Linked DNA regions of Homo sapiens. The protein of the gene in region 2 interacts with the protein of the main gene of each other region in a biochemical or structural test. Each region holds a gene or a part of one and is shown on either strand. Other genes may lie near its edges. The genes, in order: PBX1 and HOXB1.

Evidence for each region.
Region 1: the proteins of HOXB1 (region 2) and PBX1 are reported together in a solved structure, tested with the Homo sapiens proteins (2 studies listed by BioGRID and IntAct, with this or other methods).

Annotation. Positions count from the first base shown.
Region 1 is NC_000001.11:164,849,071-164,852,512, reverse strand, and holds the end of PBX1 (pre-B-cell leukemia transcription factor 1), read right to left. Parts: 3' UTR 3,174-3,442; coding exon of another isoform or gene 3,111-3,173; 3' UTR 682-3,110; downstream 1-681. UniProt on the Homo sapiens protein: Transcription factor which binds the DNA sequence 5'-TGATTGAT-3' as part of a heterodimer with HOX proteins such as HOXA1, HOXA5, HOXB7 and HOXB8. Binds to the DNA sequence 5'-TGATTGAC-3' in complex with a nuclear factor which is not a class I HOX protein.
Region 2 is NC_000017.11:48,527,732-48,534,877, forward strand, and holds HOXB1 (homeobox protein Hox-B1), read right to left. Parts: upstream 3,281-7,146; 5' UTR 3,174-3,280; coding exon 2,597-3,173; intron 2,145-2,596; coding exon 1,816-2,144; 3' UTR 795-1,815; downstream 1-794. UniProt on the Homo sapiens protein: Sequence-specific transcription factor which is part of a developmental regulatory system that provides cells with specific positional identities on the anterior-posterior axis. Acts on the anterior body structures.

The DNA.
Region 1 (3,442 bases), on a different chromosome or scaffold from region 2:
ATGGTGTTAAAGACTTGGGCACAGACTTAGGTGTGGAGGCCTGGTGTTCCAGCTAGAACACTGGGGATACCACACTCTGTAACACTTCGAAACCTCAAAGGTCAGGGGTTCAATATGAGTGCAGACTATTGGAAGAGATGCTCCTTTGGGATGGTAGGCATAACAGATGGTAGAGATGCACATCTGTTGGGAGTAACATCTATCACACTCCTGAGAGCCTACAACTGGGTATTATTTGTAACCTAGATTCCTTCCCCTGAAATATCTCTTGGGAACCACAATTTTTCTTATGACCAGATCACAGCAGACAAAGAGAAGAAAAGGAGAATCACTGGGCAAACAGCCATGACTTAGGAACTTAGAATTTATTATGGAAAATACTCCTGGCATTTCTCTGAACTGGTGCTTGGTGGATGGCTGCCAGTAGCAAGCAGACAAGATGGGGTGCTCTGTCCCTCTGTAATACAGCTATTGTTTACCCACAAATGATCCTTCCTTCCTTCCTTCTTATTTCCTGAGTGAAGAAGGTGGTCCATAAGGTCTCTGCCCCACCACCATAGTATGTAGACTTTTCAGTGATTAGGGCAACAGTTTAAACCATAATCTACACTAATGCAGGCCTAGTTTGGGGAAAGAGAAGTTGCCAGCATGTAAGAAAAGAAATGTGCACAAAATACAAGTATTTTTTTTTGCAACAAAAGAAACTATTTATTTGGAATATGCATTACCAGTACAAATTAGGAGACTGTAAAACCTACACCGTGTTAGTATCATTAGAGAACACAAAAGTTCAGTTGGAATCAAAAGGGACAGAAGCCTGTGCTCTCACAGAAGCAGAAAAGCTTAAACTTTCAAAACCAAAACAGAGCAGAGCTTTGCAGGTTTATATTCTGAATAATAAGAAAAGGGGAGGGGTAGGGGGAGAATAAAACCAACAACCAAAGGAAAGCATTTCAAATTGAAAATGCCAAAGGAAAGAAGTAATAAGAGAGAAAAGGAGAAAAACATTGAATGTTTTATTTATTTTAACAAAAGAAAAAAAAGTTTACAAAAAATAAAAGATTCCAGGAAGCTTTGAGCTAGGGATTGAAACCATAAAGGTGATGTGAAAAGCTCATCATTATTTTGTTGTGACTTCAAGAGTACAAGTGTTCAGGTAGAAATATTTCCTAAAGCATTGCTCCACAATTCTGCATTCTTTCTTTACTTTTCTTGCTTAAGTTCTGACCACTTTCTGAACATAATTTGTTGAATGATGGTATTTAAAATGAATTTTTTTCCAGATAATATGGCTTTCTTTTTTCCTCTAATAAAAACATTCCAAATCAAGCCAGTTTTGCAATTTGCTTTAAGCAGCTGCCTAAGTCAGAGGTTACTAAGAGGTGTACTCTGTGAAGTAAACGTAACCTCTTAGCATTAAAACTACAGCATTGAGCCTGGCCCAATATCTCATTAACTCTTCATCCAAAACCAGGACTCAGCTGGCAGACTGGCCCCAAGGACTTCTTCCTGCATGTAGTTTACTTAACCAATGGTGCCCATCATACCAGCATCTCCTGCGGGACTCTCCTGGAAGAAAAGGCCTCTTTGGTTGGAAGAGGCCTCATGGAATGTAGTTATTAATTAGGGAGAAATAAAACAAAGTACTTGGCTGTGATAATCAGAATCAAAAACAGCAAAAACCTTTCCTGATAGCATAAAAAGTTCCCTTGGACTAAACGTTTTTGAATTTTTAAAAGGCTAAAAGGAGAAGTATGTCCCTGATTTTATTTTTCTCAGGGACTGCATGAGTGTCACACTCTCTGGAAATGCAGGTGAGCAACGAGACATCAACATGGGCTTGATCTTCGCTTTTGGCATTAACTGAATTCTGAAGCAAAGTAGAAGAACAAGCCTACTTGTTCTTACTCCTCTGCCCAAGTCATCTTTTCACATCACCTTGTATACATATTGAAGAAAAACAGCAAGATCATAATCCTGACAATTAAAAAAAGCCCCCCAATAAACAAACCAAAAATAACACAAAACAAAACATTTTTTTTTTTGTATTTTTAAGAGCAAGAATCAAGAAAAGAAAAGAATTTATTTCTGGGTCTCAAAGTTAATAAACATAATAATGTGTTAGGTTGTACCTATTATGCTCACTATTCCAACCTTTTTTTTTTTTTTTTTAGTTTACAAAATGAATTACTGTCACTTTTAAACATTGTGAAACAAGAAATGGATGTGCACAACTCGACACTTTTCTAGCATTCTTGAACTAATTCACAAATGCAAGAAAATAAAAGAAAAATGAGGGAAATGATGAATGTAGGTAGTCTGGTGTTAAAAACTAATGCAGGAATGATGCGCATTGTCACAGAAAGAAGAGGGGAAATTCCCCATCCTGTTTTGCGTGCTATGAGGGTCATTTTTAAAATTTTTATTATAAACACTATTAAATTCAGACCGCTTTTTTGGTTTTTTTTTTCTTTATCTGAATATACAAGAACATTCATTATCAAATGTTCATCATCAATACTACAAAGAACGAGACACAAGTCGCAAGAAACAATGGAAAATGTTAATAAAGCTGAAAGAATCGTTGAGTATTTTTTTGTTTCTTTTAAAGTTTTTTTTAAATTTGAGTTTCTGTAGTTTCATCTTTTTTGGTATCGAAGTCAGGTTTTTCTGGGCAGAAAAACAAAGAGCAGGAAAGAGAGAGACAGAGAGAAAGATGTGTGAGAAAAGACAACCAGCAAATAAAGAATCACCACCATAGCAAAATAAAACATAAATTGAAAGAAGGTGCCACTTGGCAAATGTACTGCACGGGCGTCAATTCCATGCCAGAGGGAGGATGGATTAGGGATGAAAAGGAGGAGATAAGGAAGAGTTACAAGGTGGGCAAACCCAGGGTCTAGTATCGTTTCTCAGGGGAAATTCGCTGTCGGGGAAAATGGAGCACTCCCACATCTATTAGAAAATGAAGAAATCCTGGGGTGCATCTTGCTCTCTGTAGGACTGGCCTCATGTGAATTCCCAGGAAGCTGTGTTTCCAGAGGCATGCTCTTTCCAAACCCATCCTGCTGCTCTCAGTGTTCTCCTGCTTCGCCTAATGTGGACAGATCTCACGGATGCCACGTTGGAAGTCGGAAGTGATAGTGGGCTTGCCGGGGGTGCCGGGGGAGGTGCTGGGTATAGAGAAGACTAAGTGAAATGCTGGTTGGGGAAAATGCTGTGAAAGGTGATCATCAGTGAAAACTACGGCCCGGAGAGAAACTGCCTGTGCAAATGTAGCCCTGTTCTGATCTTTTGCATTAACTTAACATGGCAATTATTCAGGCCACATCTGGAGTCACTCTTCTTGTTTCCAAGAGAACCCTTTTGTCTCTCTTTCGTACTTTGCCCTAAGTCAAGCAAATGTGATTCAACCATGTTCTTGCGTGGGTAGTTTCATTAT
Region 2 (7,146 bases):
CCAAACAGATGTTTCTCTTCTTTCCCGTCTTCCTCTCAAGACCCTCTGGGCTGACCCGGCGCGGGGGCTCACGCCTGTAATCCCAGCACTTTGGAAAGCGGAGGCGGGCAGATCACTTGAGCCCGGGAGTTGGAGACCATCCTGGGCGAAATGGCAAAACCCTGTCTCTACAAAAATACAAAAATCAGCCGGGAGTGGTGGTGTGCGCCTGTGGTCCCAGCTACTCTGGAGACTGAGGTGGAGAATCGCTTGAACCTGAGAGGCAGAGGTTGCAGTGAACGGAGATTATGCCACTGTACTCCAGCCTGAGCAACAGAGCGAGACCCTGTCTCAAACAAACAAACAAACAAAAACCAAAACACAAAACCAAAAAACAAAACACAAACCAAAAAACTGCACTCCAGCCTGAGCGACAGAGCCAGACCCTGTCTCAAAAAAAAAAAAAAAAAAAAAAAAAGAAAAAGAAAAAGAAAGAAAGAAAGCAAGAAAGAAAGAAAAAAAGAAAAGAAAAAGAAAAATCTCTGGGAATTGCATTCATTCCACAGACTTCTTCCATGCTTTTCTGGATTCTCCCAATAACCAAGGGACTGACAACTGTCAAGCCTGAATGCCTGGGACCCAATCCTGCTTAGGCCACACCCAGTAAGTCCTTCTCTTTATCCAGCTGAGATCTTAAAGCTCAGTTCATTCCAGCCCAACCAGCCAATGGCCACTCTTTCTTCACCTCTTCTCCACGGTGCACGGAGTATGAGGCCTCTTCTACCCCTGAATGGAGAAACAGAAGCAGGCAGGAAGAAGGGAAAACACAGACTTTATTGAAATGAGGTAGTTGCAGGTACAGAGAGAACCCGGGCTCACTTGGGGCTCAGGTTTCCAGAAACTTAGATGGCTCCTCCTCTTTCTCAAAGGTTCAGATAAATCCTTGCAGCTGTTGGGAGCCCTCATTGTGCCTGGCTCTCCCTGGGCTGCCCCCAGGGGTAGGGGTGGAGATGGGGAAGAGGGTCCTGGGTTTTCCAGGAGGCAATAAATAGGGGAGGAGCTAGTGGGGGCGTGCCTGCACCTTCCTGGTTGTGGCTTGCTGGGGGCAGGCCTTGCACGGCGTTCCAGAAGTCTCTGGAATACCAAGTTCCAAAACACTTTGGTGACATAGTGATGAGGTCGCTGGTGTGAGGAGGCAGGTCTCAGAAAACAACCTCTGAAGGCTGCATTAGTGCAATATAAATATGCCAGGAGAGGGCTAATGGGGTTAGATGGGGGCGGGGGGCTTTTTGGTCTGTCACAAGGCAGCTGGTGCTATTGTAAGGTCTGTGGTGACTGGATTAAGCATTGATAATAATATGGCTGCACCCAAACACCTCCCACACAAGAAAATTTAAGGTTCTGTGTCAGGCCTAGAAGGGGGAGTTAGGATAAGAGTGCGTGAGGAGACTCCTCAAAGCTCGAAGGCACTGAACCGAATAAACCCAAGTTGGAAGGGAAAGGAGGATGAATCCAGGAGGATGAGGCTGGCCCCCACCCCCACCACATGTTGACACTGAGCTGATCCCCAGATCAAAGGCAGAAGCCCTTCCCTCTACATTTGACAGGTTCCATGCCTCCCAGGCCTCTGGTCCTGTAGGGCCCCCAGCCACCCAGGTCTGAGAAAAATGTTTCCCCATCCCCCCTCCCACCCCCAGGCAGCTCTAAACTGGCATTTCAGCCCTAGAGAGGATCCCCAGGCCAGTGAAGCCCAGGCCTGGGGTTGGGGAGAGCCTGGGATAGGGCTGGACTGGGGCGCTCCAGTGCCTGGAAGCCCCATTGGTGGCTAGGTTCAGTTCAGGAGGTGACAGAGCTGGGTGAGGCTTCCGGGGAGGTGCATGTCGACTGGTCTGAGGCATCTCCAGCTGCCTCCTTGGGGCAGCCTGGTGGGGCTGGGGGGACCCGACCTTCCTCTCGCTCGCGCTTCTTCTGCTTCATTCGTCGGTTCTGGAACCAAATCTTGACCTGTGTTTCATTGAGCTCCAGGGTGGCGGCAATCTCCACCCTCCGGGCCCGGCTCAGGTACTTGTTGAAATGGAACTCCTTTTCCAGTTCTGTCAGCTGCCTTGTGGTGAAGTTGGTGCGGAGGCCACTGGGCGAGCCCAGGCCTGGCTCTGACACCTTCGCTAGGGGCGGGGCAGGGAGAAAGGCCAGGTCAATTCTCTCACCTCTTTCTCCTTCCGCTTCCCTCCTCCCGGGGCTGGCTCTGGACCTCCATTTGCCATTCTGCCCAAGTACAGTTGTCAAAGTTCCCAGGGACCACCAGGTACCCCCATGGTGATCACCAAGTCTGGAGCAGCCTTCCCCATACTTCCATCCCCCATGCACACCAGGTCCTGGGTCTGTGCTGGGTGCACAGATCAGGAAGTGGGGTGTGTATGGAAACTTACTCCTGGGGTGACCGGTTACATACTGGGTGGGGAGACCTCACCTGACCTGAGACGTAGGTTGTGCTCTTACCTGTGTCTACCAGAGCCGCTGAAAGAGAAGAACCCAGCCCAGACCCAGGACATGTCACTGCAGGGGAAGCAGAGATGCTTTGGGCCCCGGAGAAGGGGTGGCCACATCTGAGCCCTACCTGTCTTGGGTGGGTTTCTCTTAACCTTCATCCAGTCGAAGGTCCGGGCCGTGGGGGTGTTAGGTTCTGAAGGGCAGGGTGTTTCCTTGTCCTCGGAGAGGAGATCAGCATAGGCCGGTGCAAAGCTCGCGGTCTGCTCGTTCCCATAAGGGGGATGCTGCGGAGGATATGGCCCCGGACCGGCTCCACCTGCTCCGTAGCCATCGGACAAGCCCCCTAGCTGGGCCCCGTAGCTCGAGGGATGAAAATAGCCTCCGTCTCCTTCTGATTGACCCAGAGGGTAGTACTGAGAAGGCCCGTAGCTGGGGCTGCAGGCGGCAGGAGCATACCCCGAGGGCGCGGAGCTGGGGAAGGGCACCCCCAGGGTCGAAGGCGGCTGCTGGGCGGGATAGCCGGAGTTCTGCTGAAACGCAGGGCTGGACAGCCCCCCACCGTAGCGGCCCTCGCTTGCATAGCTGTCAACCGCCTGAGCCGAGCTTGGGGGAAAGGAGGTTGGGGCGCTGTGGGCGCTGTAGGCGCTGGGTCCCCGGTTACAGAGTGGGTACTCTAAGAAGGAGTTCATCCTATTATAGTCCATGCGTCAAGGCCGCAGGAGGGTCGGCCCGTTTGGGGGAGACACCCTCTTGCCCTACAACCTTTCGGCAGTATGTCACAGCGCTGGGGCTCGAATCCATGGCCTGACCCGCTCGCCTGGGCAAGCGCTTCCCTAGGAAGGGGGTAGGGAGTGGGGGTGAGGGGGCACATGTGATCTCTCCCAGGCCAATGGGCTAAGCGGGCCAGAGTTTGGCAGCCCCAGCGCCCATCCATCACCCCCCAAGCATTAGCATGACAAAGACACTTCAATCACCCGCAGCCCATCCATCTGAGAGCGACATGGAAGCGTCAAAAACATCTTTCTTCAAAGACTTTTGGAAAGAAGGGACCAGAGGGAGAGGGGGAAAAAGTTAGGAGAATATTCAAGACTTTCCTTCCCTCCCAACCCCCAAGGCCTTCAATAGGCTCCTGGGTTATTAGATTTGGACAAATTCAAGCCAGCTGCCCCTCACTCTTCCCACCCCTCAGAGAAACCTTCCCCCTAAGTCTGTGGACCTGGAGGTGGGGAATCCAGCTTCCATACTTTGCCCAGAACTCCCAAACCATGTTCCTTTCTTCCAATTTGTCTTAGGGTGGTGGGCTAGGACAGCCGGGTGAGGTATGTTATCTTGGGCCAAATGGATGACTGTGTGGTGGGGAGGTGGGGGAAGGTGGTGCAAAAACACCTAAGGGTGTGGGGCAGGATCTAGAATCTAGAGGAAGAATTCATGAAGCCAGGGGTGGGAAATTGGCATTTCAGGGAGCAAGGCAGGACTACAGAAATGTGGAGAAAAGGATGAGAAATGCCCCATCTTCCCTCTCTCTCTCTTTGCATAAATGTTCTCTCCTCATTCACACATCCATTTCTCTCCCTCAGCCTCTCTTTATATTCTCTCTGTCTCAATCCATCTCTCTGTTCGTCCATCTTTCTCCATATTTATATTCGTTCCCTACCTCTCATCTCTCTAGATGTATTTATCCTCTCTCTAGCCATCCATAGCTGTAGCTGGCTCACTCACTCAGACTTAAATAACTCCCTATATCTCTCTAGAGAGCCACAATGAGCACAGCCAGGTGATGTTTACAGCGGGGTGAAGAGGAGGGGAATTTTTTATTCTCTTCTTGAAGTGTTTAAAACTAGTGGAGACCTGCATTCTCCTGGTTCCCTCCTACCTGTCTCTCCTTCACCACCCTCCATCTCCTTCCAAAAAAAAAAAATTTCCAAACCTCAAATGCATAAATTTAATACCAGTTAAATCTTAAAGATTCCTCCAGATTTCAGTAATTTTTCTAGGATTGATAAAGGGAGTTTGGTCAGAGAGTGGGAGAATCGGGGTGGAGGCCCTGAGGCTCTGAATTCTAAGACTCCAGAGTGAGGAGTGGAGTCTCGCCCCTTTTTGTTCTGTGTGGCTGTTGCGGAGGGACACAGGATGTGTCTTCTTCACTCTCTCAGACTCCAAACCCAGATGGGACTAGAAGAGAAGCCCTTAGGTAGAGCCCATTGACTCTCCTCCTCCGGACAACTTGAGGGCAAGAGCTTGGGGCAATCCAACACCCACGCTCATTTGTAACCTGTCAGGGTGTCTGCCTGGCCGGAGGCCTGGGGCCGAAGCTAGGGCAAGTCCAGGAGGGCAAGAGTTCAGGGAGTGATCTCTGTAAACAACGGAGCTCAGGAGAGGAAAGGGAAGCAGGTGGGACAGGTTTAAGGAGGACCCTCAAAACTTCTCAGGTTTCCACACCCCAAAAAGGGCAGGGCGAATACTCCTTCCTCTGCAAGGGACCCCAAAGTTGTCCCCTGCAGTCTGTGTCTTGCCCCTCCATCTTTGTCTCCCATTCCCTCTTGTTTTGCTTGGCCTTACCGTAGCTGCCTCTCCTGCTTTCTGCTCTATACCACCAGCATCACACTGCCTTTCTCTTCTCTAATAATTGTGGGCCTAGCCCAACTCTGTTTTTTTGAGGGGGAGGGTTTTGTTTTGTTTTTGTTTTTTGAGATAGGGTCTTACTCTGTCATCCAGATTGGAGTGCGGTGGCATGATCTCAGCTCACTGCAACCTCTGCCTCCCAGGTTCAAGCAATCCTCTCACCTCAGCCTCCTGAGTAGCTGGGACCACAGTCAGGCACCACTGGGCCTGGCTAATTTTTTTTGTATTTTTAGTAGAGACAGGGTTTCACCATGTTGGCCAGGCTGGTCTCGAACCCCTGGCCTCAACGATCTGCCTGCTTCGGCCTCCCAAAGTGCTAGGATTGCAGGCCTGAGCTGCCACACCTGGCCATCACCCCCAACTCTGAAAGAGCTCAAAGCATTTCACAGAACCCCTGCCTCCTTTTCCCGATCATGTGTACTCTGCTTCAGACCCTGCTTCAAGCTGAGGGGGAGGGGCACAAGCTGGTAACTTCTTTAATAGATGCAATGGGGGTGAGAGAGAATGTTCACTTGCCAAGGGAATGAGGGCAGACAAGAGAAAGGAAAATTGAGATGGGAGGAGGTGACCTGCAGAGGAATTGAAGAGAAAGAAATTATTGAGGTAAGAGCAAGCTTATTTCTTTCTATTTTACTTTTTCGGGGAGAAGATTTGCAGATGCTTCATCCTTTCATTTTAAGATGTCTTCCACAGACGCTAAGAATAACTTGTCTGGAGGAATCTAGGGCTTGTCTTCTAACCCCAAATTTGAACAAGGCCTGTATCTGATCTGGCAGCCCTGCTTCTGAGAGACTTGAGACTTGTTCACCTTCCACCTTTTCCTCATCCCGGGGAGAATCTTCTCACCCCATCCTTTGCCTTCATAATTAAGGGAACAATTTGAGGTCTAAAGGAAGAAGTGAATTTCAAATCAGTTTAATAAAACAGCACAAATCTGGGAATTGAGGAATGCATTCCCTTTATAACAGCTGAAGTCACCAACAATCTATTATTCATGACAGCAAGCAAAGACTGAGGCAAAAGTGCCCTAAGTTGGCTGGGTGCAGTCCCAGCACTTTGGAAGGCCAAGGCAAGAGGATCACTTGAGCCCAGGACTTCGAGACCAGCCTGGGCAAGATGGTGAGACCACATCTCTACAAAAATAAATAAATACAAAAATTAGCTGGGTGTGGTGGTGCCTCCCTGAAGTCCCAGCTGCTCAGAAGGGAGGATGGCTTGAGCCCAGGAGTTCAAGGCTGCAATGAGCTATGACCACACCACTGCACTCTAGCCTGGGTGACAGAGAACCTGTCTCTATTTAAAAAAAAAAAAAAAGTGCCTCAAGTTATACTGTCAATTGCAGTGATTGCCTCAGCTTTCCAAATTCACTATGCTCCCCAATTCATCCCTGAGTCATGCCACCTTCTCTTGTGTTAGCAGGGACATTAAAACTTGCCCAAATTCCTGCTGGCTCTCCCAGCCCCAGCAGAAAAGACTGGGAGAACCAAGCAACTTTGCTCCCTAGGTTCCCAATCTCCTCCTCCTCCCTAAAAGAAGCTTCGCTGACTGGAATAACCTATGGCCCATAGGATTTTTGGTGGACCAAATTAAACTCACCAGAGAGGGTCTGGGTGGACCCAACACCAAAATGAAATAAAGTTGATGTCCTAGTTTGTATGATCTGCTTGTACATAAAAGAGAGCAAGGAGAACATAGACATGTTTGGAACTGAAGTTATCTTTGACAGTTTTCACTCCTTATCACACTGAGAATGCAGGCAAGGAAACTATCTAACCAGAATGGGGATATATTAGAAGTTTAACCTCAGATTCTGGTCCTTTCTGTGAAGGAAGCTGCTTCAGCTGGGGGCTTGGCAGGAGCAATCTAAATTCTCTCATTAGACCTTAAATGTCTCTATCTGCTCTCCCCAGCCCAAATCTAGGGAGGCCAAACCCAAGATCAAAGGTTGGGGCTAGGCCAGTGAGGTGGCTCATGCCTGTAATCCCAGCACTTTGGGAGGCCAAGGAGGGCAGATCACCTGAGGTCGGGAGTTCAAGACCAGCCTGACCAACATGG